Homo sapiens: one gene and its partners. The protein of the gene in region 3 purifies or fractionates together with the protein of the main gene of each other region. This does not show direct contact. Each region holds a gene or a part of one and is shown on either strand. Other genes may lie near its edges.

The links.
Region 1: the proteins of ALDH8A1 (region 3) and SMC4 purify together in Homo sapiens (affinity purification with mass spectrometry, with the first as the bait; one large-scale study listed by BioGRID). This does not show direct contact.
Region 2: the proteins of ALDH8A1 (region 3) and DPP3 fractionate together in Homo sapiens (co-fractionation; one large-scale study listed by BioGRID). This does not show direct contact.
Region 4: the proteins of ALDH8A1 (region 3) and ESD fractionate together in Homo sapiens (co-fractionation; one large-scale study listed by BioGRID). This does not show direct contact.
Region 5: the proteins of ALDH8A1 (region 3) and NPEPL1 fractionate together in Homo sapiens (co-fractionation; one large-scale study listed by BioGRID). This does not show direct contact.

The regions. Positions count from the first base shown.
Region 1 is NC_000003.12:160,406,150-160,409,649, forward strand, and holds part of SMC4 (structural maintenance of chromosomes protein 4), read left to right. Parts: intron 1-3,500. UniProt on the Homo sapiens protein: Central component of the condensin complex, a complex required for conversion of interphase chromatin into mitotic-like condense chromosomes.
Region 2 is NC_000011.10:66,504,193-66,510,172, forward strand, and holds the end of DPP3 (dipeptidyl peptidase 3), read left to right. Parts: intron 1-419; coding exon 420-582; intron 583-4,886; coding exon 4,887-5,059; 3' UTR 5,060-5,465; downstream 5,466-5,980. UniProt on the Homo sapiens protein: Cleaves and degrades bioactive peptides, including angiotensin, Leu-enkephalin and Met-enkephalin. Also cleaves Arg-Arg-beta-naphthylamide (in vitro).
Region 3 is NC_000006.12:134,938,294-134,944,911, reverse strand, and holds part of ALDH8A1 (2-aminomuconic semialdehyde dehydrogenase), read left to right. Parts: intron 1-945; coding exon 946-1,093; intron 1,094-2,347; coding exon 2,348-2,503; intron 2,504-5,496; coding exon 5,497-5,646; intron 5,647-6,618. UniProt on the Homo sapiens protein: Catalyzes the NAD-dependent oxidation of 2-aminomuconic semialdehyde of the kynurenine metabolic pathway in L-tryptophan degradation.
Region 4 is NC_000013.11:46,792,810-46,800,214, reverse strand, and holds the start of ESD (S-formylglutathione hydrolase), read left to right. Parts: upstream 1-3,053; 5' UTR 3,054-3,110; intron 3,111-6,770; 5' UTR 6,771-6,818; intron 6,819-7,405.
Region 5 is NC_000020.11:58,711,831-58,718,221, reverse strand, and holds the end of NPEPL1 (probable aminopeptidase NPEPL1), read right to left. Parts: intron 5,744-6,391; coding exon 5,643-5,743; intron 4,803-5,642; coding exon 4,679-4,802; intron 4,306-4,678; coding exon 4,129-4,305; intron 3,663-4,128; coding exon 3,552-3,662; intron 3,055-3,551; coding exon 2,896-3,054; 3' UTR 2,378-2,895; downstream 1-2,377. Other genes in the region: uncharacterized protein LOC124904942, read right to left, coding at 1-142, 227-627. UniProt on the Homo sapiens protein: Probably catalyzes the removal of unsubstituted N-terminal amino acids from various peptides.

The DNA of each region.
Region 1 (3,500 bases), on a different chromosome or scaffold from region 3:
TAAAGCCAATTTGTTCACATGATAATCTGAACCTTTTTATGTGATCTTTACAATTGTTTAAAAAACATTTCTTCCCAAATAATACAAAGGTGAATGTTCCAAGTTAACAGATTCAGTTTGACTCAATTAAATTTATAGATAAGGACCTTAGGAACTCACTTGTTAGGAATAAGAAACAGGGATTGGACTACGGTAGAACTAATAGTGCCCAATTAAAACTTTGAGGGAAAGTGACAATGGTTTCTATGGATTGTTTTTTTTAAGTCGCTTATGAAAATCTCAGACTCCTAACTGGCAATTTAAAGCATTTGATGGTAAGTAAAAATGTGATTTTTATTACCTTCTCTCCTACTGAATAACATCTATCTTAAAAACTGATTTGGGAGGCTGAGAAATTGGAAACAGCATCGTAGTATCAACATCCAAGACCTAAATCATTACTTGGAATAAAACATGTAGACTATTTGGCCAGTAATAGTGATTAACAGCAAAAGTAATCTAAATTTAGTAAAAATAAACATTTATTTTTGAGATTAAAAAGAACCAAATTTTTTAGAAGTTCCTAAGAGTAAAATTTTTCAGTGTTAATATATTCGCTTAGCAAATTTTTCAAGTAGGCATTTTTATTACTTAAATCCATTAAAAATTTCATTAATTGGCCATTCAATTGAATTCCTATTAAGGCACTATGCTAAAATGCTGTAAGTAATATTAAGATGGCTAAACCTTATTTCTTGTCCTTAAAGACACATACATGCCTTCAAAAAGTTTGTTGTGATTGACCATTGTGTTTTTTATAATCGTACATTTTCTTTTATATATACCTACTTTGGGAGCCTCGGTCCCGTTGTAAGTCTGTACAAGTAGAGTTTTATTAGCTCTGTATAACATTTCTTGGGTAACTATGACTTATAAATTAGGGGTGCTTTTGCTCCATTCAGGGGTAGAAGAATGGTTAATGTTTTTACTAAAAAGTTGTATTAATGATTGCTGCCTCAGGAATATTTTTGTAAACTCCTCAAAAGCTACAACTATTAGCACAACTTTAATTTTGTCAAAGTTTTCAACTTCATATGCTTTTGTCTTCATATTACAAAATCTAAAGTTTGAAACACGAACCAGGCTGGGTGCATTAGCTCACGCCTATAATCCCAGCACTTTGGAAGGCTGAGGCAGGCAGATCACTTGAGCCCAGGAGTTGGAGACCAGCCTAGGCAACATGGTGAAACTATGTCTCTATAGAAAATACAAAAATTAGCTGGGCATGGTGACACACCCCTATAGTCCCACCTACTCAGGAGGCTGAGGTGGGAGGACTGCTTAAACCCAGGAGGCAGAGGTTGCAGTGAGCCAACATCGTACCACTGCACTCCAGCCTGGGTGACAGACCTTGTCTCTAAATAAATAAATAATAGCCAAGTTCTTTTTTTTTTTTTTAATTATTTTGTAATTTGGAGATTTAATTAACCTAGGTCTGAGTTGTTGCCTAGCCATCTGTTCTTTTTTCCAATGTACTTCTCTTAAGCTTGTCACATAAACTACTTGGGTTCTAGTCTCTTAGTCTGTAGAAATGAGCCTATGCTATAATATCAAAAGAAATTTTTAGTTTTTTCAGTAATGCCTCAGTTTTCCAAAGGTGTCTGATTCAATATCCACAACTAGGGTGAAGGTGGTGGAGAGCAGCAAGGAAGCTACCTCTAACCAACCAGAAATAGATATCAAGAAGTCCAGCTACTAACAAGTTACTCTTTCTGTTTTATTTTAGAAAGATACTAACCTTGGTGGTTTAGTTCCTTGGCCTCTGGTAGCTTACAAAGATCAAATTAGAGTAAAATGTATTGGAGGAAGATAAAGAACACTAATTTATAGTATAGTATAATAAAAGATATAGAAAATAAAAAGATGATCAAGATAAAAACTTAAACCTCAGTAATTTTAGGCCATTTAATTTTTATGCAAACACTCATATTTGCTGTAAGAATCACTGAAACCCTCCTTCATAGTAATTACAAGTAAAAATAAAGAGAAGAATAATTGAGGCCTTACTAGGACAACAAAACTTTGTTATAGCTATGTACTGTTTGAGTTTTCTGTAGTTGATGCTTGCTAAAATTTGGATTACATTTGAATAAGGATAAAGGGCATCATACCTATTCATTCCTCTTAGATTTCTAAGCTGTATTTCAGTAAATTGATTCTCAAAGAGTGGTATAACTGGATCATAATATCCTTGTTTGCCACTCAAGAAAGTGTTCCATAACTTAAGATAACAGTGGTGGGAAAAATCATTTAAGACCTTGTTTCATATGCTTTAAGATACAAGAAATAGAGATAACACTGGGAACATATGAAACTTTGTCAGCATCAGATAATAGTGTTGTAGCGACTTGAAACATTTTTTGTCTGTGATTGTGCCAGTCACTATTTGTGACTTGGATTGAACCTTGATATGACTTTAAATTCAGGTTGATGTTTTAAAATTATTTCTGAAATATATTGAGCTTATTGCCCTAAATTAAAACTATATTCTGTAATTTTACATGAGTTATGTAAGTTTTCTGAAGAAATAAGGAGGAATCCTTTAGGCACAGACTGTCAATCTACAGATTACATAGGAGATGGCACAAATGGAAAAAGAAGGAAGAAAGGAAATGGTAGCAAGTGGTAGGGCAGGCAAAGGACATCAAAGAACAGAGCAACAAGAAAAGTCCCAGGTTGTCATTGTAATACCACAGTAGTCTTAATAGTCAAAGGACAAGTAAAGGCCTGTTAATAGCCTGTTGATTCAATAATGCTAATCTGATAATATGGTAACTGGTTTAAAAAAAAGCAATACGGTATAATAATCTTAAGACTGCTGTAATCCCAGCACTTTGGGAGGCCCAGACGGGCGGATCACGAGGTCAGGAGATCGAGACCATCCTGGCTAACACGGTGAAACCCCGTCTCTACTAAAAAATACAAAAATTAGCCGGGCATGGTGGCGCGTGCCTGTAGTCCCAGCTACACAGGAGGCTGAGGCAGGAGAATGGCGTGAACCCGGGAGGCGGAGCTTGCAGTGAGTCGAGATCGCGCCACTGCACTCCAGCCTGGGCGACAGAGCGAAACTCCGTCTCAAAAAAAAAAAAAAAAAAAAAAAAAAAGACTGAATGTTATACAGGAGTTGAGATGTAACTATTTTGCTTTGTAAATATCCTGCCTTTAAAAAAAAAAATGCTCAACTCTATTAGAGGAAATCATAGCTGTATCTTTCATTTTATTTGGAGAGAGAGGAACAAACAACCAAAAATGAGCAACCATTGTTATTTACCCAAAGCTAAGCTGTTTCTTAATAGCTGTACTCTATCTCTTCAGTAAGTAATTTGCCAGGAGAAATACAATGTTTTTAAGGAATATTTTTGTCAGCGTAAACTGTTAAACACTGAATCCCAACTTTTAGCTATCTGAAAAATGTATACTTAAATAATACATTATGGCCATTTGACTCAAATGTAAGTTCT
Region 2 (5,980 bases), on a different chromosome or scaffold from region 3:
AGCAATCCTCTCACCTCGGACTCCCCAAGTGCCCAGGATTGCACGCATGAGCCACCATGGCTGGCCTTTTTTTTTCCATAGAGATATGGTCTTGCCATATTGTCCAGGCTGGTCTCAAACTCCTGGGCTCAAGTGATCCCCTGCCTCCTCCTCCCAAGGTACTAAGATTACAGGTGTGAGCCACCACACCCAGCCTGAAGCCTCTTTTATAAGGGCCTTAATCCCATTCAAGAGGAAGGAGCCTTAATGGTTAAGTTGAAACTTAACCATAAGTTTCAACACCAGAATTTTGGAGGGGACACATTCAAACCATAGCACAGACTGTCCAGGGCTGACCACAATCAGCTGTGGCCTATGGCAGAGCCCTGTGGACACCGGGTAACTGCCCATCCTAGACATTTACTCCATCCTTCTCACAGGTGCTGAAGTCCACAGGGGATGTGGCCGGAGGGCGGGCCCTGTACGAGGGGTATGCAACAGTCACTGATGCGCCCCCCGAGTGCTTCCTCACCCTCAGGGACACGGTGCTGCTGCGTAAGGAATCTCGGAAGCTCATTGTTCAGCCCAACACTCGCCTTGAAGGTAATGAGGTAATGAGGGAGCTCTTGAGCTCCCTTGATGAGCACCACACAGGGCCCTCTGGGAAGCAGTAAGAACCCATCCCAGGGCTCAATAAGAACCTAACCCAGCCTGGGATGGCCCTTCCCTTTCTGCCAAGGTCCTTCCCATGCCAAACCTCAGGCCCTTATCTTGGTATCTGTCACCACCCACCACCCCCCCGACACACACACAGTCATGCAAGTTGTAAGACAGTGACAGAAGATTTGAAGAAGACCACCAGAGCAGGGGATAGCAGAACATGCAGACTTAGGGGGAAGCCAGGCGTTCATACCAAAGAATTAGACCTGTTGGGTACCCAGGCTGGGGGTCAGGTGAGGAGGGAGCTGGGATCCAGCAAGCCTAGTGAAACCCAGGGGACAGTGGACTCGGTCACATCCAGGATGGTGATCAACAGCTGCATCATCCCGCTTCCTTCTCAAGCGACAATTCCAGAGCCTTGGCCACACGGTGCTTGTATCTTTCGTATTCAGACCCCCTGGGGTTCCAGCCCCTTACTGCCTTCACTTTCCTCTCACCCCTTGACTCATCTTTCCTGCTACTTGTCACTTGAGATACCTAAGATGATGTGTGTTATGGAGAGGTTAGAGCACCAGCTTCAGAACCACCCTGTGACTTTGGCCTAGTCACCTGACATTTCTAGACTTTGGTGTCTTCATTCATAAAGGCAGTGTGGACTGCTTGCTGATGTTATCGTGAACCTGAATTCCTTCTTAGAGTTTCTAAGTGCTTTCTGGGGATTAACCTTTTAAATCCTTGCAGTAGCCCAATAAGGTAGGTATTGTTGTTATCCCCATTTTACAGGTAAGGAAACTGAGGCACAGAGAGTAATTTGCACAAGGCTTATGGCTTTTTAGTGGAGGAGCCAAGAGTCAAATTAAGAGTGGTTGAGTCAGGCATGGTGGCCCCTGCCTATAGTCCCAGCTACTTGAAAGAGTGAGGTAGGAGGATTGCTTGAGCCCAGGAGTTCAATGCTACAGAGCAAGACCTCAACTCTTTAAAAAAAAAAAAAAAAAAAAAGCATTGTCCTGGGCAGTTGTGAGGGTTACATAGAATAATATTTGCAAAAAGTCACTACCTATTATTGGTGAGGAAAAAGCATTTATTTATTTGGTTTTTGGGTTGGTTTTGTTTTTGTTTTTGTTTTTGTTTTTTTTGAGACGGAGTCTCACTCTGTCGCCTAGGCTGGAGTGTAGTGACACAATCTCGGCTCATTGCAACCTCCGCCTCTGGGTTCAAGCGATTCTCCTGCCCCAGTCTCCCGAGTAGCTGGTATAACAGGCGCCCGCCACCACACCCAGCTAATTTTTGTATTTTTTTTAGTAGAGACGGGGTTTTACTATGTTGGCTAGGCTGGTCTCGAACTCCTGACCTCAAGTGATCTACCCACCTCAGCCTCCCAAAGTGCTGGGATTACAGGCGTGAGCCACCATACCCGGCTATTTTATTTTATTTATTTCTGAGACGGAGTTTCCCTCTTGTTGCCCAGGCTGGAGTGCAGTGGCTCGATCTTGGCCCACTGCAATCTCTGCCTCCCGGGTTCAAGCGATTCTCCTGCCTCAGCTTCCTGAGTAGCTGGGATTACAGGCGCGTGCCGCCATGCCCGGCTAATTTTTGTATTTTTAGTAGAGACAGGGTTTTGCCATGTTGGCCAGGCTGGTCTCGAACTCCTGACCTCAGGTGATCCACCCTCCTCGGCCTCCCAAAGTGCTGGGATTACAGGCGTGAGCCACCATGCCCAGCCGGAAAAAGCATTTATTAAGACGCTCATTCTAGATGCTTTTCCATGCTCTCCAGAGGCTTCCTGGGATTTGGCCCCAACCCTTGCCAGCCTCACCACCCCTTCTCTGGCTCACTGTACTCCAGTCTCCCGACCTTTCTGTTTCTTCTACCCACTGAGCTGGGTCCACTCCTACAGCCTTTGAATAAGCTGTTCTTGCTGCTTGGCATGATCTTCCTCCAGATCTTTGCCTGTCTGGTTCTTTTTGTCCTTCCGCTCCTTGTAAAACGGCACCCTGTGAGAGAGGTTGTCTCTGACCCCTCCACCTAAAGTAACTGCTTCGGTCCCTCTCTGTTCTGCTACCCAGTTTCATTTTCTTCTAGCGCCCATCACGCTTGCCCATTTTCTTGGTGGTCACTTCTCATGATGGGAGGAGCAGCATACCCCAGTGCCTCATGCACAGCCTGGCACACTGGAGTTGCTCAGTGACTGTCAAATGAGTGCATTAATAAATCATGCCAGCCACATGGACAATACTCTCAATTGCTTTGATATGTCCAGCCCTGTGCGAGCCATGGGGGAGCCACTAGGGATCCGGAGGTGATCACAGCTCACTGGGGATGATAAGATATGGAGATAAATAATCATACAAGGGGGCCGGGCGCGGTGACTCACACCTGTAATCCCAGCACTTTGGGAGGCTGAGGCAGGTGGATCACAAGGTCAGGAGATCGAGACCGTCCTGGCTAACACGGTGAAACCCCGTCTCTACTAAAAATACAAAAAATTAGCCAGGCATGGTTGCAGGCGCCTGTAGTCCCAGCTACTCAGGAGACTGAGGCAGGAGAATGACCTGAACCCGGGAGGCGGAGCTTGCAGTGAGCCAAGATTGCGTCACTGCACTCCAGCCTGGGTGACAGAGCGAGACTCCATCTAAAAAAAAAAATAATAATAATAATCATCATCATAATCATACAAGGGAAGTGTTAATGAGTGGCCAAAACATATAAACAGAACTCTGAACACTTAGAGGAGGGAAGATCGCATCCATCTTCAAGAGTATCCGGGAACGTTCTGGGGAGGAAGGGGTGGTTCCCACTAGATCTGAAGAACAGGTTGGATTTTCAAAGGTTGTGATGGTGGTGCACTGTAAAAAGTTTTTTTTTTTTTTTTTGAGGTGGAGTCTCACTCTGTCCCGCAGGCAGTGGTGAGATCTCGGCTCACTGCAACCTCCACCTCCGGAGTCAAATGATTCTCCGGCCTCAGCCTCCCAAAAAGCTGGGATTAGAGGCACCCACCACCATGCCCAGCTAATTTTGTATTTTTAGTAGAGATGGGGTTTCACCATGTTGGCCAGGCTAATCTCGAACTCCTGACCTCAAGTGATCCACCCGCCTCAGCCTCCCAAAGTGCTGGCATTACAGGTGTGAGCCACCACACCCAGCCAGGTCGCTGTAAAAGCTTTCTATGGCTTAACTCCTAACAACCCAGAGAGAAATGGTTATTATCCTCATTTTTCATCTGGAAAATGAGGCACAGAGGGGCTGTGTATTTGCCTGCGGTCACAAAGCTGTTGGGTGGCAGAGCCAGAACTTGAACTCCAGAGCTTGTGCTCTTTGCTGCTGTGCAGCTTGTGATGTCATGGAACACGACAAGGTGCACAGAGAGGGTAGAGCAGTTGAAGTGTGTTTGAGGGCAGTGCTTCCCGGGGGTATTCAGGGGACCCTCAGAACAGCCCATTTAATAAATCAGTAAACAGGTTCGGAGATAATGATGCCATGGTGGCTAGCATTTGTTGAGCACCCCCTCGATGTGTGACTATGTCATCACTGCAGCTCCTTTACAGATGAGGAGACTGAAGCTTGGGAGGTTGCAACACTTGCCCCAGGTCCCACAGTAGACAGATGAAGTCGTTGCTGAATTGTGAGCTTCAGGACACCAAGGACTGTATCTGTTTCACCTAGTGTGGCACCTGGTGTCTTTTATTATTTATTTATTTATTTATTTATTTTGAGGTGGAATCTCACTGTCACCCAGGCTGGAGTGCAGTGGCACGATCTCTGCTCACCGCAACCTCTGCCACCCGGGTTCAAGCAATTCTCCAGCCTCAGCCTCCCGAGTAGCTGGGACTACAGGCTCATGCCACCACGCCCAGCTAATTTTTTTGTATGTTTAGTATAAACAGTGTTTCATCATGTTGGCCAAGCTGGTCTCAAACTCCTGACCTCAGGTGATCCTCCCACCTCAGCCTACCAAGGTGCTAGGATTACAGGCATGAGCCACCATGCCCAGCCTAAATCTTTATTTGATTGACTGAATGAACGAAAGCAGCAATGCATTTAATACTCCCCCTGTAGTATTTCCTTCCTCACAGGGTTACTGTAAAGAGTAAATTAAGTAATTAACCTAAAACGTAGAGCACAGGTTTTTTTGGCAGAGCTCAGTAAGAAACAGCTGCTGCTGTAATTGTGATTATTAAGATTTTTATGATGATTCAGTTTCCCTATTCAGACCTTTCCCTGCTGTTTTCTCTCCATCTCCTCCCCAGGCTCAGACGTGCAGCTTCTGGAATACGAGGCGTCAGCTGCTGGCCTCATCCGATCCTTCTCTGAGCGTTTCCCAGAGGATGGACCCGAGTTGGAGGAGATCCTCACACAGCTGGCCACAGCCGATGCCCGATTCTGGAAGGGCCCCAGTGAGGCCCCATCTGGCCAAGCTTGAGGAAGATGTGTGGCCTTGCCCCCAATTCCATCAGACCAAGGCTGCAAGTGGCCCTCCATTCGTGTGTGTATTTAGGGGCTGGGGAGGGGGAGGGGCAGGAGCTTGGACCTTGGTACTACCTCAGCTGAGGGTGGTGACACAACCCCTTCCATTTGTCAGCACTTTCCAGCCTGCCAATTGCTTCCCCTCTGTGATCTCATTTCATCTGCACTGCCATACGTGGAGTGAGCAAGACAGGGCTTACCATCCTGTCTACCAGATGAGGAAATGGCAGTTCTGAGAAGTCACTGGTCTAGATCCCGCAGGTGGCACGTGACAGCTAGGGTTCAAAACGTTCTCACCAAATCCAATGCTCCTCACATATTAATTTTATAACCAGACAAATAAATATTAGAGACAACCACCATCTTTGCGGCGTGTGTGGCTCCTCCTTGCCTTTGCCTGTCTTCTCATTTACTCCCAGCAGAGTGATGGGCTCAAGGCCTGGGGAGGGGGCAAGGAGGGCCATTTTTAGCCTCCCTTCCACAACAGGATGTTGACATTATCTCTAGATGAGGATACGCAGTCACAGAGCTGAACATAGCACAATTTTTGCAGCTCTCCTTTGTGGCATTCCTTGCATTTTTAAATGTTCTGGGGCCGGGCACGGTGGCTCATGCCTGTAATCCCAGCACTTTGGGAGGCCGAGGCGAGGGGATCACGAGGTCAGGAGTTCGAGACCGGCTTGGCCAATATGGTGAAACCTCGTCTCTACTAAAAAATAAAGTAGCTGGGCATGGTGGCATGCGCCTGTAATCCCAGCTACTCGGGAGGCTGAGGCAGGAGAATCCCTGGAACCCGGGAGGCGGAGGTTGCGGTGAGCCGAAATCGCGCTACTGCGCTCCAGCGCAAGCGACAGAGCGAGACTACGTCTCAAAAAAA
Region 3 (6,618 bases):
ATGTATAACATATACATTTTTTTGAGACAGGGTCTTACTCTGTCACCTAGGCTGGAGTGCAGTGGCACAATTACAGCTCACTACAGCTTCTACCTCCTGGGCTCAAGTAATCCTCCCACCTTAGCCTCCTGAGTAGCTGGGACTACAGGCATGCACCACAACGCCCAACTAATTTTTTAAAAAACCTTTGTGTAGAGACAGGGTCTCACTATGTTGACCAGGCTGGTCTCAAACTCCTGGGCTCAAGCGATCCTCCCAACCCAGCCTCCCTAAGTGCTAAGATTACAGGCATGAGCCACCACTCCTGGCCCACAATATTTTTAAAAATTCTAGTTTCTGAAGTGATTGAAAATGTACATATGTTAAAATTCAAATAGCTTCTTTCTAATGATCTGATTACTACATTCAGGATGCATTGGTTGAAATGGAGCGCGTTTCTTTGTTTCTATGGTACCCCTCCTTTGCTGGTCATGTAAACACCTGTGTCATCTACTTTGTGGGTGGCTCAGCACTGGGACATGTTGAATATTCAAAATTAGGGTGGGCCAGGTGCAGTGGCTCACACCTGTAATCCCAGCACTTTGGGAGGCCGAGGCGAGTGGTTCACTTGTATTCAGGAACTCAAGACCGGCCTGGTCAGCATGGTGAAACCCCCTTTCTACTAAAAAATACAAAAATTAGCTGGGCATGGTGGCACATGCCTGTAATCCCAGCTGCTCAGGAGGCTGAGGTGGGAGAATCACTTGAACCCCGGAGGCAGAGGTTGCAGTGAGCCAAAATTGCGCCACTGCCCTCCAGGCTGGGCTACAGAGTGAGAATCCATCTAAAAAACAAAACAAAACAAAACAAAAATGAGGTGTGTGGAGACCTGAGGATTCTGGTTTTGTCCATCCCCCAAGGACTAACAGCTTTAAGGTGACCCTTTCTCCCATTTGCTCCTCAAAGATCGAAGCCGCGGTCAAGGCCGCCAGAGAAGCCTTTCCCAGCTGGTCATCCCGCAGCCCCCAGGAGCGCTCACGGGTCCTGAACCAGGTGGCGGATTTGCTGGAGCAGTCCCTGGAGGAGTTTGCCCAGGCCGAGTCTAAAGACCAAGGTGAGAGTTGCCTCTTAACTGTAACATGGGACTCAGGGCATCTCTGATTATTCATGTTATCCCTCTTGGGGCCATCAGGCCAGCCCATGTGCCTGCTCCTCTGGCAATAGTAGAAGTGGAGAGCAAACCCTCCCCTGCTCCAGGCCTGGGAAGGCCAGGACTTGTGGCTGGCCCAGCCCTGTCTCATTCAGATGGCCAGAGAAAGTCACATGGCTGGATCCAAAAGCTGAGGGGCAAAGAAATATACTCTGTTCATTGGATGAAAGGAAGTGCAAATATATACAGCAAAGGGCATGGATATAGGGAGAGATGAAGAACTAGGGCTGATCATGCAGTCTCCTACTCATTCTAAGCAGAGAATTTCAAAGCAAAGATAATTTGAAAAGCAGTTATGCAGTCAGATTATTTAGGATGTTTTCTGATATGTCAGTCACCATTCCACTCCCGACACATCTCATTTTTTTTTCCCACTCTTTCCCAGAGGTCAGAGTAATGGAGTAAATATTTGTAAATTTTTGCAAGAATATCTGTTAAGATAAGCCAAGAGTTTTAAAAATTACATGTGTGCCATAAACCAATCAAAAATCAGAAAGCAGCCTGAGTCCAAGCCCTTAAAAAGAAAATAGTTCTCTGCTGGTGTTCCTGGCCAGGCTCCCTGCATCGCTAAAGAGAACTCAGTAGCAGTCTAGGTAAGCTTCTGTTTCTCTTTCTGTTCCATCCAGGAGCTAGGACGTGCAGGGCATGTGATGGGCAAGCAGGTGCCACACAGCATCCCGTGCCAGGGCATTCCCAGCCGCTCTTCTGATGACTCTACCATGTGTGGGGAGGTCATGAAATACACATTACATGTGTATAAAAGTGTTTCGTTTTGTGCTGTGCAATTACAACTGTCCTAACACCCGTATTTCAATGCCTTTGTCGCAGGTACAAAGCCTGGTGATTTTGAATTGCAAGAGTTTGTGTGGGTGAAGTGGTAGCATCTGGCAAACTGGTGATGAGAATGATGTGTTCAGTTCACAGAACAAAGATTATTGACTCAATTTTAACCCCCCACCTCAGTTTCCAACCTTATACCTAAATATTGTATGGTTTTATCAAACCATGATCAAGTCTTTGTGAGGTCAAGGAATGCCTGCCCCGGGCTAGAAGGAATCCAGGCTGTTTCAGTGTGAGTTGGGACGCGTGGGCAGTGGAAGCTGATGGATAGAGTGTCCCCATTAGCTGATAGTGCTTTATGTTGTTTGCTTCTTACAGGGAAAACCTTAGCACTGGCAAGAACCATGGACATTCCCCGGTCTGTGCAGAACTTCAGGTTCTTCGCTTCCTCCAGCCTGCACCACACGTCAGAGTGCACGCAGATGGACCACCTGGGCTGCATGCACTACACGGTGCGGGCCCCGGTGGGAGTCGGTGAGTGCTGTTCAGTGAGAGCCCACCTCCCGGTTATGCTTGCAGATGCTCACAACATTCTATGGCATTGTCCTCAAGGAACAGGTTAAAGAAAAGGAAGAGCTGATATTTTTCTTTTCTAAAATCCATTGGCCTCAAAGATCTATTTCTAGTTTATTTTCTTTGTGTCAAATTCCCTGCTTTTCTTTTTAGACAGCGTCTTGCTCTGTCGCCCAGGCTGGAGTGCAGTGGCATGATCTCGGCTCACTGCAACCTCTGCTTCCCGGATTCTAGTGATTCTCTAGTCTCAGCCTCCTGAGTACCTGGGACCACAGGTGCGAGCTACCACACCGGCTAATTTTTGTGTTTTTAGTAGAAACAGGGTTTCACCCATGTTGGCCAGGCTGATCTCAAACTCCTGACCTCAAGTTATCCTCCCGCCTCGGCCTCCCCAAGTGCTGGGATTACAGGCGTGAGCCACCACGCCAGGCCTCATGTTCATGACTTATCTGGAAAATCATAGGGAAAAGAATGATGCTAAGAGTAAATATGTAAATTCACATGCCAGGATTTTTTTTTCTACTTATATTTAAAAAAGGAAAAATCAGGCTGGGCGCAGTGGCTCACGCCTGTAATCCCAGCACTTTGAGAGGCTGAGGCAGAAGGATCATCTGAGGTCAGGAATTCGATCAGCCTGGCCACCATGGTGAAACCCCGTCTCTACTAAAAATACAAAAATTCACCGGGCGCGGTGGCTCATGCCTGTAATACCAGCACTTTGGGAGGCCAAGATTGGCGGATCGCCTGAGGTCAGGAGTTCGAGACCAGCCTGGCCAACATGGCGAAACCCCATCTCTACTAAAAATACAAAAAGTTAGCTGGATGTGGTGGCGGGCACTTGTAATCCCAGCTACTTGGGAGGCTGAGGCAGGGAGAATTGCTTGAACCCAGGAGGCCGAGGTTGCAGTGAGCTGAGATTGTGCCATTGCACTCCAGCCTGGGCGACAAGAGTGAGACTCGGTCTCAAAAAAACAAAACAAAACAAAACAAAAAAACCCAGCCGGGCGTGGTGGCATGCATCTGTAGTCCCAGCTACTTGGGAGGCTGAGGCAGGAGAATCACTTGAACCTGGGAGTCGGAGGTTGCAGTGAGCTGAGATGGTGCCACTGCACTCCAGCCTGGGTGATAGATCGAGACTCTGTCTCAAAAGAAAAAAAAAAGAAAGAACTATTTATGTACATTAAATAAATTAATAAGTGTAGGGCATGTAGTATGGTGCCAGGTGTGTGATAAATAAGCCTCTACTGAGAATTATCTTACTTCATGCATTCCTTTGCCTCTTGACCTTTGGAAGAACGTATAAATAAATGTCTGTGATGACTAAAACCTTCCACCAGATGTCACTGTTTCCTCGGAGAAAAAAATCATCTTTTTAGCTTATTACATTTTATGAATATAAGCTAAAAGGAAAACAATTGGGACATCTCATTGCTTTGGTTACTTGAAACCTTCAGAAATTATGTTTTCAAGGCATTGTGGAAAGCTCTACCTCCTCCTAGGAAGTGTGCTAATATATTTTGCTGCAAAAATATTTTTATCCCCTAAAGAATGGATTTTTCAGTGGGAAATTTAATAATATAAAAGATGCATTTACTTTCATAGCACAGGCTTGAGGGAAGAGTATAAAATAAGGTGAATCAATTTCCTTTCAGAAGGTAGATTTTTATATTTGTTTGTTTTGTGATTGGAAACCTGGATAGGTTCAGAATATTGCATGGAGACACATTCTAGCTGCTGGTTACGTTACTCATCCAGCAAATCTATCTGGTCAGGATACAAGTGACAATCTAGAGAGAATTTTTATTTAAAAATATTCTAAATAGCCAAAATGGATGTCACAGTCCATGCACCAAAGGTTATTGGCTTTACTGATAGGAGGGCCCTCACATGGAACACTCAGAACTCATTGGCCCCTATTTTATGAATAATTATATAAAGCTTGAGATTTTATGTCTCAACCCATGACAGATTTGAAGTAAAGGTAAAGAAACATGTTAGAAGAAATAACAGCCAGACCGTTAAAATAATGGGGAAGGAGACATTTTTGAAAAAGTAAAGCTCAGTCTATAAATCTCAAAATGCGTCACATTCTGGAACTGTTTAGTGACAGGTGACAACTGTTTTTTTATTTTTTATTTTTTTTTGAAGTTCCAGGGTACACGTGCAGGACGTGCAGGTTTGTTACATAGGTAAACGTGTGCCATGGTGGTTTGCTGCACCTATCAACCCATCACCTAGCTATTAAGCCCAGCATGCATTTGCTCTTTATCCTAATGCTCTTCCCCCCGACTCTCCCCTGACAGGGCCTGCTGTGTGTTGTTCCTTTCCCTGTGTCCATGTGTTCTCATTGTTCAGCTCCCACTTATAAGTGAGAACATGCAGGTGTTTGGTTTTCTGTTTCTGTGTTACTTTGCTAAGGATAATGGCTTCCACCTTCATCCATGTGCCTGCAAAGGACATGATCTCGTTCCTTTTTATGGCTGCATTGTATTCCATTGTGTATATGTACCACATATTCTTATCCAATCCATTATTGATGAGCATTTGAGTTGATTCCATGTCTTTGCTATTGCTATTGTGAATAGCAAAGTGCTGCAATGAACATACGCGTGCATGTATCTTTATAATAGAATGATTTATATTTCTTTGGGTATATGATAGGTGACAACTCTTTAGCTCTGGAGTTTATATTGCTGTTGTTCATAATCATGAACTGCCAAGAAATGGGGAAATCATATTGACTTTACTCTGTTTTAAAAGATACAGTTGCTTGGAATATATTTTAGAATTATTTCCCTGAAAGTGGCTACAAATAAGCAAAGCTTGGGAAGAAGTTAGAAGAGTAAGCTAAGTTTTCTGCAGCATGAAGGAGTTTTGCGTTAATAACCCCACTTGGCCAGTCCACCTCAGAGGGGTATGCCGTCACAGGCAGTGCTTCTGCTCTCATCCCTTAGCTGGTCTGATCAGCCCCTGGAATTTGCCACTCTACTTGCTGACCTGGAAGATAGCTCCAGCGATGGCTGCAGGGAACACTGTGATAGCCAAGCCCAGTGAGCTGACTTCAGTGACTGCGTGGATGTTGTGCAAACTCCTGGATAAAGCAGGTAATTAGGTGTTGGGGTTGGGGGGCAGGCACAGAGTTGGAGCAAACCTATAGTTTATAGAAATCTTCCACTCAGCAGCACAATCGATTCCAGTGACATCATGGGCTTTGTCTTTCTGATCCTTGTCTGGGAAATCCCCTCCACCCACAGGGTTCCCTCACCCTGCTTCCTGTCTTCAACACCAGAACGGTGCTACTGCAGGCAAGTTCCACTCCCCAGGGTGGGCGACTGGCAGCACAATAGTGACGCAGACTTAAACAGCCCCATCAAATCAAAGACACCTGCCTGCTCCAGAGAGTCAATTAAAATCTTAAGTTGGGGCCAGGTGTGGTGGTTCACGCCTGTAATCCCAGCACTTTGGGAGGCTGAGGTGGGTGGATCACGAGGTCAGGAGATCGAGACCATCCTGGCTAATACGATGAAACCCCGTCTCTACTAAAAATACAAAAAATTAGCTGGGCGTGGTGGCGGGCGCCTGTAGTCCCAGCTACTTGGGAGACTGAGGCAGGAGAATGGCATGAACCCAGGAGGCGGAGCTTGCAGTGAGCCGAGATTGCACCACTGCACTCCAGCCTGGGCGACAGAGTGAGACTCCGTCTCAAAAAAATAAATTAAAAAATAAAATAATAATAATAATAATAAAATAAAATCTTGAATCACAAGTTAATCCTGATGACAATAAGAATATTGCTAGGTACACCTACAGTTTGCTTGGCTATAGAATACCTAGTAGAAGTAGCCCGATTTCAAGAGATCTAAATATACATCCTTCAGTTTTTCCTGCCTTTGGGACTGCTACTGGAAAGCTAATACAATATGGCCTCTTCCTAGCATATCAAGGTTCACACGTTTGCTCCTTGTTCTTTTTCTGCTAATAGTTTATTGGCCGCATTCAGGATGCGCTCCTGGTTTTGTTCTGGGCTGTAGCTCCGCACAGGCACAGGCTGGCACTGTTTGAAGGCAGCAGGCAGG
Region 4 (7,405 bases), on a different chromosome or scaffold from region 3:
GCCTATAATCCCAGCACTTTGGGAGGCTGAAGTGGGAGGATCACTTGAGCTCAAGAGTTCAAGACCAGCCTGGGCAACATAGCAAGATCCCATTTCTACTAAAAATACAAAAATTAGCTGGGCATGCTAGCACACGCCTGTAGTGCCAGCTACTCAGGAGGCTGAGGCAGTAGGATCACTTGAGCCCAGGAGTTTGAGGTTGTAATGAACTATGATTGCGCCATTGCACTCCAGCCTGGGTGACAGAGTAAGACCCTATCTTAAATAAATAAATAAATAAAATTGAAATATGTGAAATTTGGACATTTGCTAATATGAATGTGAGACTGAAAGGCTTGTCTGTACTTGTTGTATTGTACTCTGCAGTTAGAACTTAAGATAACAAAGTCAAGATGGAACAGTGGCACAGGGCTATAAGTTTCCGGTACTTGGTTCAGTTCCCATGATCCAAAGTCTGGTCCTCAGAGTACACATTCAGAAACTCAATTCTGTAAGGTGAGTATCATGCTCAGAGATGGTAAGTCTTTGGGAAAATGTATCATCTCAGCTACACTCACCAGAGACTAAAGCATTTTTAACCTAAGTTCTGATTTATTAAATAACAATGGAGCCTATTATTTTCCAAAATGTCACTAGATAAGAATAGAATCAAAATAAAGGGAATTTTGAAAAATGTTTATCTAGGCCAGTGGTTCTTAACTAGGGGCAATTTTGCAGCCCTCCTCTACACCAACCCCTCCTTCCATGGACATTTGGCAATGTCTAGAGACGTTTTGGGTATCTAAGCTTGTTAGGGGTACCACTGGCATCTAGCTAGTGGAGGCCAGGGATGTTACGAAACATCCTACAATGCACAGGGTAGGCCTCCACGACAAAGAATCATCTGGCCCCAAATGTCAACAGTGCCGAGGTTGAGAAACCCTGTTCTAGTCTGTGGAAAAGCCACAAGGACACTTCTCAAGTAGCATATTTGATACCCAAGAGATTATATTATTTTCTATGTATGGTGTCTTTTCTAGTCTCTCTAAAACTATCTTTGCTATGGATTGAATGTTTGTGTTCCCCAGAATTCAAACATTGAACCCTAAATCCTTAACGTGATGGTATTTGGAGATGGAGACTTTGGAAGATAATTACACCATGATGGTGGAGTCCATGTGAATGGGACTAGTGCCCTTACAATAAGATGAAGGAACCAGAGCTCTCCTCACCCCACCCACCAAGTGAGACTACAGCAAGAAGGTATTCCTCTGCAAACGAGGAAAAGGGCTCTCAGCAGGAACAGATTTCATCAGCACCTTGATCTTGGACTTCCCAGACTTTTAGAATGGTGAGGAATAAATTTCTGTTAAGCTGGAACTGACTAAAACAATCTCTTTTCTTACAGGCTTCAAGTATATTTGACTTTTTCTCATTTTTATTGCATCCCTTTATTGCCTCCTTAAGATTATATTCCTACTCATTTTAGTTCAAACCAAGAGTCCTATATCCTCTCAGCCACACATTTACACATAATTTTTGGACTATTTCTTTGTGTACTTAATATTCATCCATTTTTATTGGTAGTGCCATTTTTTAAAATGTCAACCTTAATTTCTGATTTCAGCCTTCTTTGCTTCCATGTCCAAATAATAATGATAATTATATATATTCTTAATATTTTTAAGCAATCGACTTTTGTGGATCTATTAACATTTTATTTATGCTGGGTAAAAGAAATTTTAGTTCTGCTTATTCTCACATTGTATTCACACAAGAACCCTTTAGTAAAGAACTTCACACTTACAGTTCTTTGGCTAGTCTGCACCTCACAGCAGTCCACTTATTAGGCAAATATATCATTTAATCAATTATTTCTCTTTGTTCAAACATCAGTTATAAAGAACTTGCAATTTAGGTATTTATTCTGTTTCAGTTTTGAAACTGAAGAAAATCCCCTTTTCAATGATTTATACTTAAAGATAGTAAAAAGAAAGTTTAAAACAATTTACTTCAATGCTTTCTCAAAATAAAAACATTATTTTGATGAAACATTATTTTCAGTCTAAGTTCCAATTGATCCACAGGTTCAGTCCACAGGTTAATTTAGTCCAAAGATCACTATGGCAAAATGGGCCTGAGCCACACAATAGATTCTGGCAGGTAATCTCTTGTGTGGCAGCTCATCCATACTTAAGTCAGCTCCCATAGCTACACAATTTGCAGGGCCCAATTCCAGACACAAACGTGGGGCCCTGGTTCAACACTTACTGAGAGAAAATGTAGCGTCCTTCTGTTCTGGGGGCCGGGTAATAGCACAGGTTGCAGGCCCATGAGGCCAGCCCCAACTATCAGATTGTGTATTTACAATGTCAGTCTAACCGTTGCTGAAAAATACTTAGCTCTGTTGTAATCAGATTTAATTTCTCAAGAGGCAAAGTACACTCAACAGTTTGCTTAAATCAGAGAGACCAAAAGGAAAGATTTGCTGTAAATTATCAACTAGCAAATCTTAGTCAGTTCAACTTAATTTTTATTGAGGGAAGAAGGGAGAAAACAGAAAACTGATGGAGTTCCCACTGCGTGTCGGCCACTGGAGATTTCAAAGGTTTCTTGTTTAACTCAAGCTACCAAGTAGGTGACGTGGATAGTCTTGGGACAGAGGAGTTGAGGGAGTTGAAATTAGGCCCTAGTTTCTACATAAGTGACACGGAAACCCTCTGCACGAGTTAAGCGAAGCTACATCTCAAGTTTATTAATGCCTCGGGTTCTTGCTGCTGGCTCTGGGAAGAGTCTGAGCACGCACAGCAGACTGATCCCCGACAAGGTGACAGGGACTAACCTAACGCCCTCCTCGTTGGTCCTAGTAACCACACAGAGCAGAAACGCGGGCGAAGGCAGGAGTTGGAGGGGGCGCCCACGCGGAGGCTGCCGGGAAGTGCAATGTGCAAAGGCGGCGGGGCCATGGAGACTGAACTGGAGAAGAGCGGGTTCTCGGAGTTAAAAGCGAGAGTGAGTGGGACCGGAGGGGCGGGGCATCATATGGGCGGGGCTGAGGCGAGGCCCCGGCGGCCATCTTGAGCCCCGCCTTTTACTTCGGCCCGCTTCTTCTGGTCACTCCGCCACCGTAGGTAAGACTGGGTTCGGGTAGAGGCCTGGACGTTGTCAGCCTTCCTGCGGCTGCGGCACGGCTAGGCGTGATCGGGGCGGACGCCGAGTCCTGCGGTGCAGGTATCCGCAGGCACGAGCGCAGAGACGGCGACCCTGGGCCTTGGGCGCCACCATCCATGACAGGAGGCCAAGGACCTTTTCCCGTGACCCGGAGCCTCGCCTCTAATCCCTTTTCCTTCTCTGAGCCTCCAACCTAGTGTAACCCGGGGCGAGCGCCCGTTTACCTACTGCCCGCTACATTTGTACAGCTTTTTCCTGTTCAGAAAGACTTTCCTAGACCCGCAGCCACCGCGCGAAAATGTGAAGTAGATGTGTACGCATTTTAAGGAGGGAGCTGGCCTCAACGCGTTACTAGCGGCCGCCGGCGCCTGGTTCGGGGGAGTGTGGACCTGCTGCTCTAGGCAGCGTCCGCGTCGGGGCACGAGCCAATGGCGCGGTCAGGAGCACTCACCTGATGGTGCCGAGGGGAGCACGTGTCTTTGGAGTTTGACAAAATCTGTTCGGGTCGTAAAATGCTCTCAGAGCGCTGTGGGGGACTGGAAGTCATTTCTGATGGGGTCATTAGGGAAATGGGATTGAGCGCACCTGGAAGGAGAGGGCATTCAGGTTGCAGGAAAAATAATAGCTCATGTTTGTGTGTGTGGTAGAAGCAGCATTTTAAGCACTACGTGAATTAACTCATTTAATTCCCAGAGCAACCCTATCAAATTGATATATATTACTGTATACCCATTTTGCAGATGGGCAAATGAGGCATAGATTAGCTTGCCCAGTGTCATGTAGTAATAAGTGGTGAAGTCAGGGTTTGAACCCGGAGGGTCTGGCCCCAAAACCTGCTCTGAAACCATTGTACCGTGGCATTGAGTAAAGCCACCCGATAGCAACATCCAGGCCATCCTAGAATTATGCATAGTTGAGTTTAACTAACAAAATAGGGAGTGAGACCAGAAAAATAATCTGGGACCAAATTATAGACCATATTTAGAGCCATGTGAAGGTGTTTGGCGTTTATAGATGCTATATTTTTTTTAAAAAATTTTCCCCAGAGTTTAATAGAAATCCTTACCTAGGCAAGCCATGTGAATTTTTATGAAGGAAAAGAGACCCAGCCTAGGCAGCATGGCAAAACCTCCTCTACAAAAAATTACCTGGGCATGGTGGTGCCACCTGTGGTCCCAACTACTCCAGAGGCTGAGGCGGGAGGATCACCTGAGCCCGGGGGCCGAGATGATTGCAGTGAGCCGAGATCAGGCCACTGCACTCCAATCTGGGCCACAGAGTTTGACCCTGTCTCAAAAAAAAAAAAAAGAAGAAAAAAAAGACTGTGTTTGCACACAGGTAGAGTGTGACTGAAGTTTATATGGAGTTTTATTCATCTATTTTTTCAGTGATCCTGCATGGTTTTAATTTTATGAAATTTTAATGGCATTAAACTTGAAGAAAATTGTACAATTAACATGGTCTTCCATTTCAGTGACTTTCTGGTTCTCAGCGACTGGCCTAACAGCGAAAGGGATTAGTAGTCTCCACCTGCAGCAGCCAGGGGGTGATGAGGCAGTTCTCATCTGCTCATTATTGTGAGCTGGCGAACTGCGTTTTTACATATGACTAATGGATACTTAACACTACTGAAATACACACTTAGGAATGGTTAAGATAGTAAATATTATGTATGTGTTTTTATCACAGTTTTTAAAATACTAAATAAAAATGACTAACAATTCCACGTAGGCCGTATTAGGCTGCAGATGAGCTGTTGGTAGGGATCCGTTGACCAGTAAATTAAGTGGATTAAAACCCTAGGCTTTCATGCAGGATTGATCGTAGTGGGATGTATTAGGAAGAAAGGAAGAGGCTAAGTTTTAATTTCTTATATATAATTAGGATGATGGCAGTGGGAATTCAAAAAGAAGGTAACTTTGAGGCATCTCAAATGTAGATTAGGCAAGACAGGCATGAGTCTGAAAAAGAGAGGCAATGAAAAGAGGAATGGTTTGAAGGTGAGATGCAGAAGCTTAATTTTAGGTGTGGTAAGTTTTAATAGCTGGTGACATGTCTTGGTAGAAGAGTCCAGCAAGAAATGTCATTATGGGTACTAATGCTTGAGAAAGATTGGTTATAGAGATGCAGATTTAGATTATTTCACCCAGAAAATGTAGTTGAAATTTAGGGAATGAGGTTTAGGGAAAGAGTGTGAAGAAAAAAGAAAAGGGAGGTGGGAGGAGACAGAGTGAAAGGGAAGAAGCCAGATCCTGAGTTTTCACTGAGAAGAGGATTTGAACAACACAGTGGTGGTCAACAGCAGTTATTGGAACTGTAGATTGTTGGTTTTGGGAACACCTGTCTAGGTTGTTAAGAGCCAGTGGAATAGGACATCCTGGAAATGAAGAAACATCAAAATCCAAGGAATCTGAGAGAATGGGAACAAAAAAACACATGTAGAGATTTATGGAAAACTTGAGACACAGGGGAAGAAGGATAAAAATAGAACTCAGATTTCTGGAGGTGGATGACATTTAACTTTAATAAGTAAAGGGCCCTGTCTCTACAAAAAATTAAAAAAAAAAATATTCCAGTGTGGTACGCACCTGTAGTCCTAGCTGCTCAGGAGGCTGAGGTAGGAGAACACTTGAAGCTTGGAGTTCTAGGTTACACTGAGTCATGATTATGCAACTGTACTACAACCTGGGCCACACAGCCAAGACCCCATCTCCAAAAAATAAAAAATAAAGGGAAGAACAGTAAGGTTTGACCTTTAGGGGAATGGATGTATTATGCACTGAGAGACCCTTTCTTCTCCAAAGAATGTTGATGTTCACTAACATTTGGGAAAAATTGTGTAACTCCCACTGGCACTGTGAAATTGTTTTTCTGTTTTTGTTGTTGTTGTTGTTGTTGTTGTTTTTTGGAGGGGAAGGAGGAAGGGTGTTGTTTGGTTTTTTGGTATTCCACCCTACTCTGTCACCCTATTTCTCCCACAAAATCTGTTCTAGAACCTAAATATATATTTGTTCTAGAGCCTAAATGAAATCTACCAGATAAGTGACATGATATATACTATGTAAGTTTCCATATATATTTTTCTTACTGAATATCAGTCACTTCATCGTTCATAAGCCCACTTTTCTTATACATCCTTTCTAGTCACCCTAGTAGTAGTCCTTCAGTCCTCATCTCTTCCCTTCTTTCTCCCCATGTTACAAGTTCGACTTACAACTGAGCCAGATAGATCCATCTTCCTCTACTTACCTAGTCCCCACTCTTATTTTCTTCACTCAGGAGTTGACTACATCTCATGCTTCGAAATTACACTTGAAAACTTTGTTTATTGATTTAAAAAGATAAAAAACTTTCATAGTACTTTTACTTCAGCAGATGGTTTTGACCAAGTACCAACAAGCTTTATGGCAAAATAGGTATTAAGGTGGCCTGTGGCAAATAATTAGATTATGGGCAATTAAGGTAATTAAGTGGTGATGTGGTATCCCATCAGGGTGTACAGTCATTTACCTCAAAAGAAGAAAACATCTCTATTGAGAATGCATATGCATATAAAAGCTCTGTATAACCTTTGCTGTGAAAAGTATATCCCATTTGTAAACCATTGGTGTTTTTTTCAGAATCGCCTACCATTTGGTGCAAGCAAAAAGCAATCAGCAATTGGACAGGTAAACTTGTTTTATTGTTTATATGTTACTCTGAACATTGAATGAAAATACCACTAATAGCTTGTTTTAAAACGTGCTATTTTTCACATAGAAAAATTCTATTGAAAAATATAACCACCTATTATAATGTATCAGATATCATAGTATATCACAGTATGTCATATCTAGTTCTTAGTTTATGTCATATTTCTTGTTAAGCCTAACATATTTTTTTGATTTGTAATTAAAGATAGTTTCTAAAATGGTGGGTAGAAAAAATACTTTAAAAGCTTTGTTTTTTAAAAAATATTCTACCAACTTTTAAAAAGTGTTTTAATCTTGTTTCTTCTGGCCAAATGAAAAGCATTTGATTTTGAATTTTAAGAGCAGAGAAAACTGACAACTTGAGGTTTATTAAAATAGACGAATAGCAAAGATACAGACTCCTATGTACCAGATACGTGCTCAGTGTACCATCTTTTGCAAAGTGGATATAGTCCTTTCTAAGTTTAAGAAAATCTGGTTTCCTTGTGGAATAATGGAGCAAATAAATTTTATTTGTTGGTCTCATATATATGTATTAATATATTAAAATTAGTATCTCTCTC
Region 5 (6,391 bases), on a different chromosome or scaffold from region 3:
ATCCGTCACAGCCTGTGGGAGGCAGCTGTCCGATGTGGTCACCCTGAGTGGCCCTGGGTCTTCTGAAGTCATTTCAAATGTCTCTGGAGCCTGGTGCCGCCGCTCCCCTGGTTTCCCACCTTTGCTGACAAAGACCTGACCTCTGGGGAGAGATTTTCCATCAGTTCTGGGGGCCTGCATCTGGGTCCTCTCCCAGGCCGGGGCCTGTACCCCTCACACAGCGCACCCTCGTAGGCTGCAGGATGTGGACTGGCCAGCCTTCCGCAACGCCAGGGTCTGGCTGCAGCAGCTGAGGCCGGCCGATGCCCTGAAGACGGCCCGATGGCTAAGTGGTGGGTGGCGCAGGAGGATTGGTGGCCCAGCTGTGACCAGAACCGGGGCTGTGGCCACGACCTGGAAATGGTCATCTACAATGACACAGCCCCAGAGCCCAGGCTTCCTGGCGGATGCCGGTAAAGCTCTCTTCAGCCTGGAGGTGCAGCCTTCAGCCGGGCTTTCCATAGCCCTCTGGCCCTGCTCACCTGTTCTCACAGTGGCCTTGAGTGTGTATGTGCAGCCCTGTGTGCCCTCAGCCCCAGGTGTGCACAGGCCGCTGGTGGCCAGATCTAGGGCTCCCTTCTCTAACATGGAGGGAGGAGGGGCCTCCCTTTCCTTCGCCTGCTCTGCTCATCACCTCCAGCTCCTGCAGCCTTTTTCCCAGAGACATTTCCATCCTCTCATCTCTTGTCCCTGTCTCTGGGATAACATCACCCAGGTGGGCCCTGGGATTCCAGGGAGGGGGTGTGGGTGGGGTCCTAGCCCCGCCTACTTGGCGTGGCCATGGTGATGCTCTCGGCCAAGTTCATCTGGGAGCACTTCCTTGGGGCTGTGCGCTAGCCTGCCTGTGGGGGCTCTGCACCAAGCTCGTCTTCCTGCACTGCTCCCCGGAAACCATGATCAAGTGGACCCAGAGCACCCACCTGCCCCCCAGCACCGCCAGCCGCCCCATGACCCTGTTGCCAGGGCTCTGGTGGGGCCTGGGGAAGCAGCCGTTGCCTCCTAGAGCCCTTTGGCCCCAGGGAAAGCCAGGCCTCTGGCTCACCCCCGTGGGCCCCCCGACGCCGGCAGGCAGGCCAGGCCAGCCAGCAGCTGGTGCCCAGCTGGGTCCCTGGTCCTGAGGCCGCCTTTGTGCCTGCACAAGGGAGACTCAGTTCCTCCCCTGCTCCCTGACCCTGCATCCTGTGTCCATGCGGGCGCACCCCTGGTAGCAGGAGCAGACGGTGCCAGCTGCCCTGGAGAAGGAGCCAGCCACCTCAGGACCTCTGCCTCTTCTGGGTGTCTCAGGGGAGGCCGGCAAGCGGGGCCTACTGCAGCACCATTAAGCAAGCTAATGACCCGTGAAGGCTCCTAACCCCGGCTGCAGCCGCCCCTGCTCAGGAGCTCCGGCTCCGTCTCCCCGGCTGCTGCCCACAATTGCTGTCATTGTGTTGGGTGACAGTTTCCTCAGACAGGGCCAGGACCTTGGAGCCAGTTCTTGCCTTTTCAGGCCCAGCCGGGGCTGTGTACACAGCAGGCAGTTAATAAATATTTGCTTGCGATCAGGCCCAGAAAGTCACCTTGATTTCCAGGGCTGTGGGGGCACATGGATTCTGGGGACCCTTGGGGTGGGGTGGCCAGGGGCTCAGGACACAGCCTAGGGCCACGTGTCCCACAGATCTGCAGCCAGGTCCTCACCCTCGGCCCTAGCTGAAGAGAGGTGGGCACTGTCCCCTTCCCTGTGGGGCCTCAGACCCAATCCCTTCCTGGGGGGCCCCAGGCAGCCCTGCTGCGACTGACAGCAAAGGGGATGTATGGCAGGGACAAGGTCCTGGCCTGTACTGTCACCCAAGCCAGTGGGAGCCTGGCTCCTGGGTGCCTTGGACCCGCCTCACCTGCTTTTCCTGGAGCCCAGGTTCAGGGGTTCCCTGAATCCTGGCGGGGCTCCCGGGAGATCCGAATTGGCTTCGGGGCCCTGCCCTTTATCACCTAGGACAGTGCCCAGGGGCACGGAAGCACAGTCGACCTCACACAGCGCAGGCTCCAGGACCCTCGAGAGACAGAACGGCCTCCGTGCAGGCTGCCGGGCTGTAGAGAGTTCAGGAGCCCACAGCACTTCCACCTGGAGTCTGTGCTGTGTGCACCCAGAAAATCAAAATGGTCAGGAAGGCCAGGCCTAGGCCCAGCGGCCCCCTGTCCTCCCCAGGTCCTGGGCTCCTGTCATCAACACTGGGTTGACCAGCTGGGGCTCAAAGCCAGAGCCGGTCTGGGAGAAGCAGGAGGCAGCCCTGCACTACATTCCCTAGATGGGCTCCAGGACCCGTTTCTAAAATGGAGGGGGAGAAAGAAGAACGAGGCCAGGTGAGGGGGCGGTGTGACTGTATTTAATTGAACCTCAAGTGAATTCTGAGAGGCCGGAGTGTGACTTCTCTTGCCCTATAAATCAGGTCCCCTGCAGCAAGTCAGCTCCATCTTTCACAGGGCTGGGCTGGCTGGATGCGCTGGCAGCCCCGGCTGGAGTAAGAGCCTGGCTGTCAGCCACGCAGGTGCCCTGCACAGGACCTGGGGCTGGGACAGGGCACCAGGCAGGCAGGAGGCCTCACCCCGGGGTGCAGAAGGCCCCAGGGGTAGCAGTTTACAGAAGATGTCTCAGTCCTGTAAGTAACAAACAGAAACAAGCCCCAGCGCTTCCCGGTCCCCTCCCCGTGGCCCGCACCAAACCCTAAGCTGTCTCCTAAAACTTCAGCTGTTTCCACCACCACGCTGACGACCAGAAAGACAAACCAAAACCCATATGAAGGGCAATCTTTCAATTGCTTAAAATTAATCAGTGCAAAGTGAGGTAAAAGATCCCCGTTTGTCAGGGCCGAGGCAGGAGGCTCACACAAGCCTGCGTCTCTTGGAGTCCCTCCCCAGGTCCCCCTCCTCGACATCCACCTCACAGCCCAGTGGGGACACCAGGTTCAGCAGAGGGTCCTCAGAGGCACGGCCGAAGAGCGCCAGCAGGAGGGCCACACCGAAGCCTGTGGCTCGCTCACCCTGCAAGCAAAGGGCAGGACACAGACTCTGGGCGTGGGGCTGCAGCACAGGAGGGGTTCCTGGGGACCCCTCACCTCCTGGGTCCCCTCCACGTGCCCCACAGTCCCCTTCTCAGGAAGGAGATCCTGAGCACCAGCCGGAGCCCAGAGCCTTCCATGCTGCTGGCTGGACACGTTCAGGGCTGGCAGGCCAGGCGTAGGCAGGGGGCAAGGCCCTGTGTGCTCTGCCTTCACCCCGGGAGCTCCTCAGGGTGGGGATGGGTGAGACAGGGCCCAGGATCCCCTATGGAGGACAGGCTGGCTGGGGAAGGGTCGCACACAGCAGCCACTCTGTTCCCAGGGAGGATGAGACCTGGGGGTGGTGGGGACAGCGGGCTGGAAGCTGGGTCACAGACAGAAGTTTCTGATGAGCTCTGCCAGCAGCTCCAGAGCCAGAGGGGCGCTGTTTGGACAAGCGGGCGGGAGCAGCCAGGGCCAGTGGGGAGGGGAGACACTCACAGCATGCACCGGTGCAGCAATGTCCAGGTGGACCCAGACTCCGGGCCAGTCGAAGCCGATGTGTGAGGCGATGAAGAGGCCAGCACAGGAGCTGGGGCTGTTGTCTCGGTCCTAGGGAGGCCAGGAGGACACAGTGCCTGTGGGTTGCTCCGGCCGGGCCCTCTCCACCCTGCCCCATCGCCTGTCACTATTGCTGTCTGCAAGGAGCTCGGGGTGGCTGGGAGGGAGCGTGTGGGGAGGCAGCAGAAGCTGGGCTGGGAGGGCCTTGACCATGAGCTAAGGAGTCTGCCCCCACCATAGGCCAAGGGGGAAGCCAGCAAAGGGCCTGATGGGGCAACTGAGCCAGACCCAAGACTGGGGGAGAAACCCTTGGCTGTGTGGCAGGGAAGCCAGTGAGTGGCCCACGCTGTCTGGGATGACTCCTGTGCCCTGACGCCTGCCTCTCAAGCCCTCGTCTGCACTGTGGCTGCTTCTGGGGGGCCCCAGCTCCCTGGGTGCACCAGCACCCTGAAGGCAGGGCTCCGCCTGCCCGGCTCCACCCATGTGGCAGGCTCCAGGTTCGAGGCTCCAAACCTACCGCCACTGAGTTCTTCATGTCCGCCACAGCTGAGGTGAACTCGCTGAAGTGCAGCTCGGGGCAGTAGACCAGCGGGTGCACCAGGTCCCCACACTTCCTGCCCGCCTTCACACAGGCGGCCTCCCACTCAGCGCTGTTGGTGAGCACCGCGGCGTGGTACTTCCCTGTGGCAATGCCCTGGGCGGGCAGGAACCCGGGAAGCGTGTGGACGGGACGGCAGGAGAGAAACACCCAAGGCAAAAGAGGGACCGGGAGGCAGACAGAGAAATAAGGGAGCCAGAAAAGAGACGGTTGAGAAAAAAAGAAAAAACACAGGCAGAAAGGACCATGGCCATGAAGCACACAGGAGGCGGTTCCCGGCTCTGCATCCAGCCTGGGCCTCGGTACTGCCCACACCAAGCTTGACGGGCAGCTCCTCCTGCCTCCTCGTGCCCAGTTATGAAAACTTCCTGACGGCAGCCCCCACGCGCTGCCTTCCCCACCTTGAGGTCAAGAGTGGGGTGGGGTTCCCTGGGACTACAGCTAAGGGGTGGATCCAGGGAGCACTCACCTGAGCCCCGGTCAGGGTGGCCATGTCCAGGATGATGTCGGCCCCCAGGTCCTTGCAAGCATAGGACACGCCATCTGCCAGCACCAGCCTGCCCTCGGCATCCGTGTTGTTGATTTCCACCGTCCTGGGGCATGGTAGAGATCCCCGCTCAGGGACGGGATTTCCTGGGACACTGGCATGAGCCCCTTTGAAACTGGGGAGACCCCATTTGGAGCTGCCCATCCCTGTGGCTCCCCGAACCCCAACACGTTCCCTGAATGGGAAGGCCGGGATGCCCCCAGTCCCTACAGCAATGCAGTGCCTGGAGCAAAGGGCTTCCAGGTGACATCCCTGCCCCGCTGCTCTGGAGAGCCAGAGACCAGCCATTTGGCTCTCCCATGCCTCAGTTTCTTCTTCTGTAAAGTGGGTGGCATGAACCGGCTGGGCTGGCCTTCAGCACACTGTGCCTGGCACCCGGCAGATGGGGAGGAAGAGCAGGAGATGCGGGGAGGCGCCCACTCAGGCACCAGCTCATGGGGCTGGGGAGAGGGCTCTTCTCTTTTGAATTCTGGAGCCACTTGCTCCTCAGCTGCCAGCTCAGCTTTGACTTTCCAGGGTCAATCTCAAGGGGGAGATGCAGGAGGTGTCCCCGAGCAGGGAATCTGGGGGTCAGAGCTTCACACACCCAAAGATTTCAGGCCTAAATTTTGGAAAGACCTGTCCTGGTAATGCAGGGTAGACCACGAGCTCCTGGGCCAGGCACTGCACGGGAGCCTAGCACCTCATCCAGGTGCCATGGGCCCCTCAACGTGAGGTGCGCCTGCTACCAAAGCTCCCCAGCCCTCCGGGAAGCAAGGAGCCTGCTGCCCAGGGGACCCCAACGCTGAGTGCCCTCCCGATATGCCTGGAGTGAGCTGGCATTGCAGGCCGGGAAGGGTCGCGAGTTCCAACAGTGGGCAGGAAGGAGTGGGAGGGCCAGACGTACTTCCCTGAGTACAGCAGGTGGATGTCATCTGGCCTTGTCGCATTGGGCCCCACCGAGTTCTCAGCCAAGCAGAACACAGCGTGGAGGTTGTCTTTGAAACCCTGGAGGGAGAAGTGGGCAGAGGCTCCAGTTGTAGGTCATAGGTTTGGGGAGGGGGGAGGACGAGCTGGGGGTTCTCAGACCCACAGACAGCAGGAGAGAGAGAGATGGCTCCAAGTTGCAGGGACCAAAGCTCGCCCTCCCTGCCATCCCGGGTACAGTCCTGGCAGATCCCAAGGCCAAGGCTCACCACTGGGGTTTCCTAGCCTCCCCTGGCAGAGGCCACCCGCCGCAGTGGATGAGCCTGGGCATGGGCTGGGCTGTGGGACTCTTGGACTGCATGGGCTGGGCAGTCATGAAGCCTCGCCAACCTGTGCCGACAGAAGGTGGCCAGCAGCCGCGTCCCCTCAATACACACACACACACACGTACACACACAGAGGGGCAGGAAGAGCTCAGCCTCGTGGAAGTTTAGGTGTGAAGTTATGGCTTTCTGATGCCAAAAGTCATTTGTTCACTGAGAAATGTGTGGCCAACAGATGGTGGCAGTTCCTGCCCTGCACAGGTTCTAAGGGTGCCCCCTGACCCCGAAGCGGGCCACACCCGGGCAGCAATGTCAAATGGAGTAGAGCTCCCAGACCCCTGTCCCTGCCCTTCCTCTGCTCCCGCAGACGAATCTTTAACCAGAATACATCCTCCTAGCATGGAGC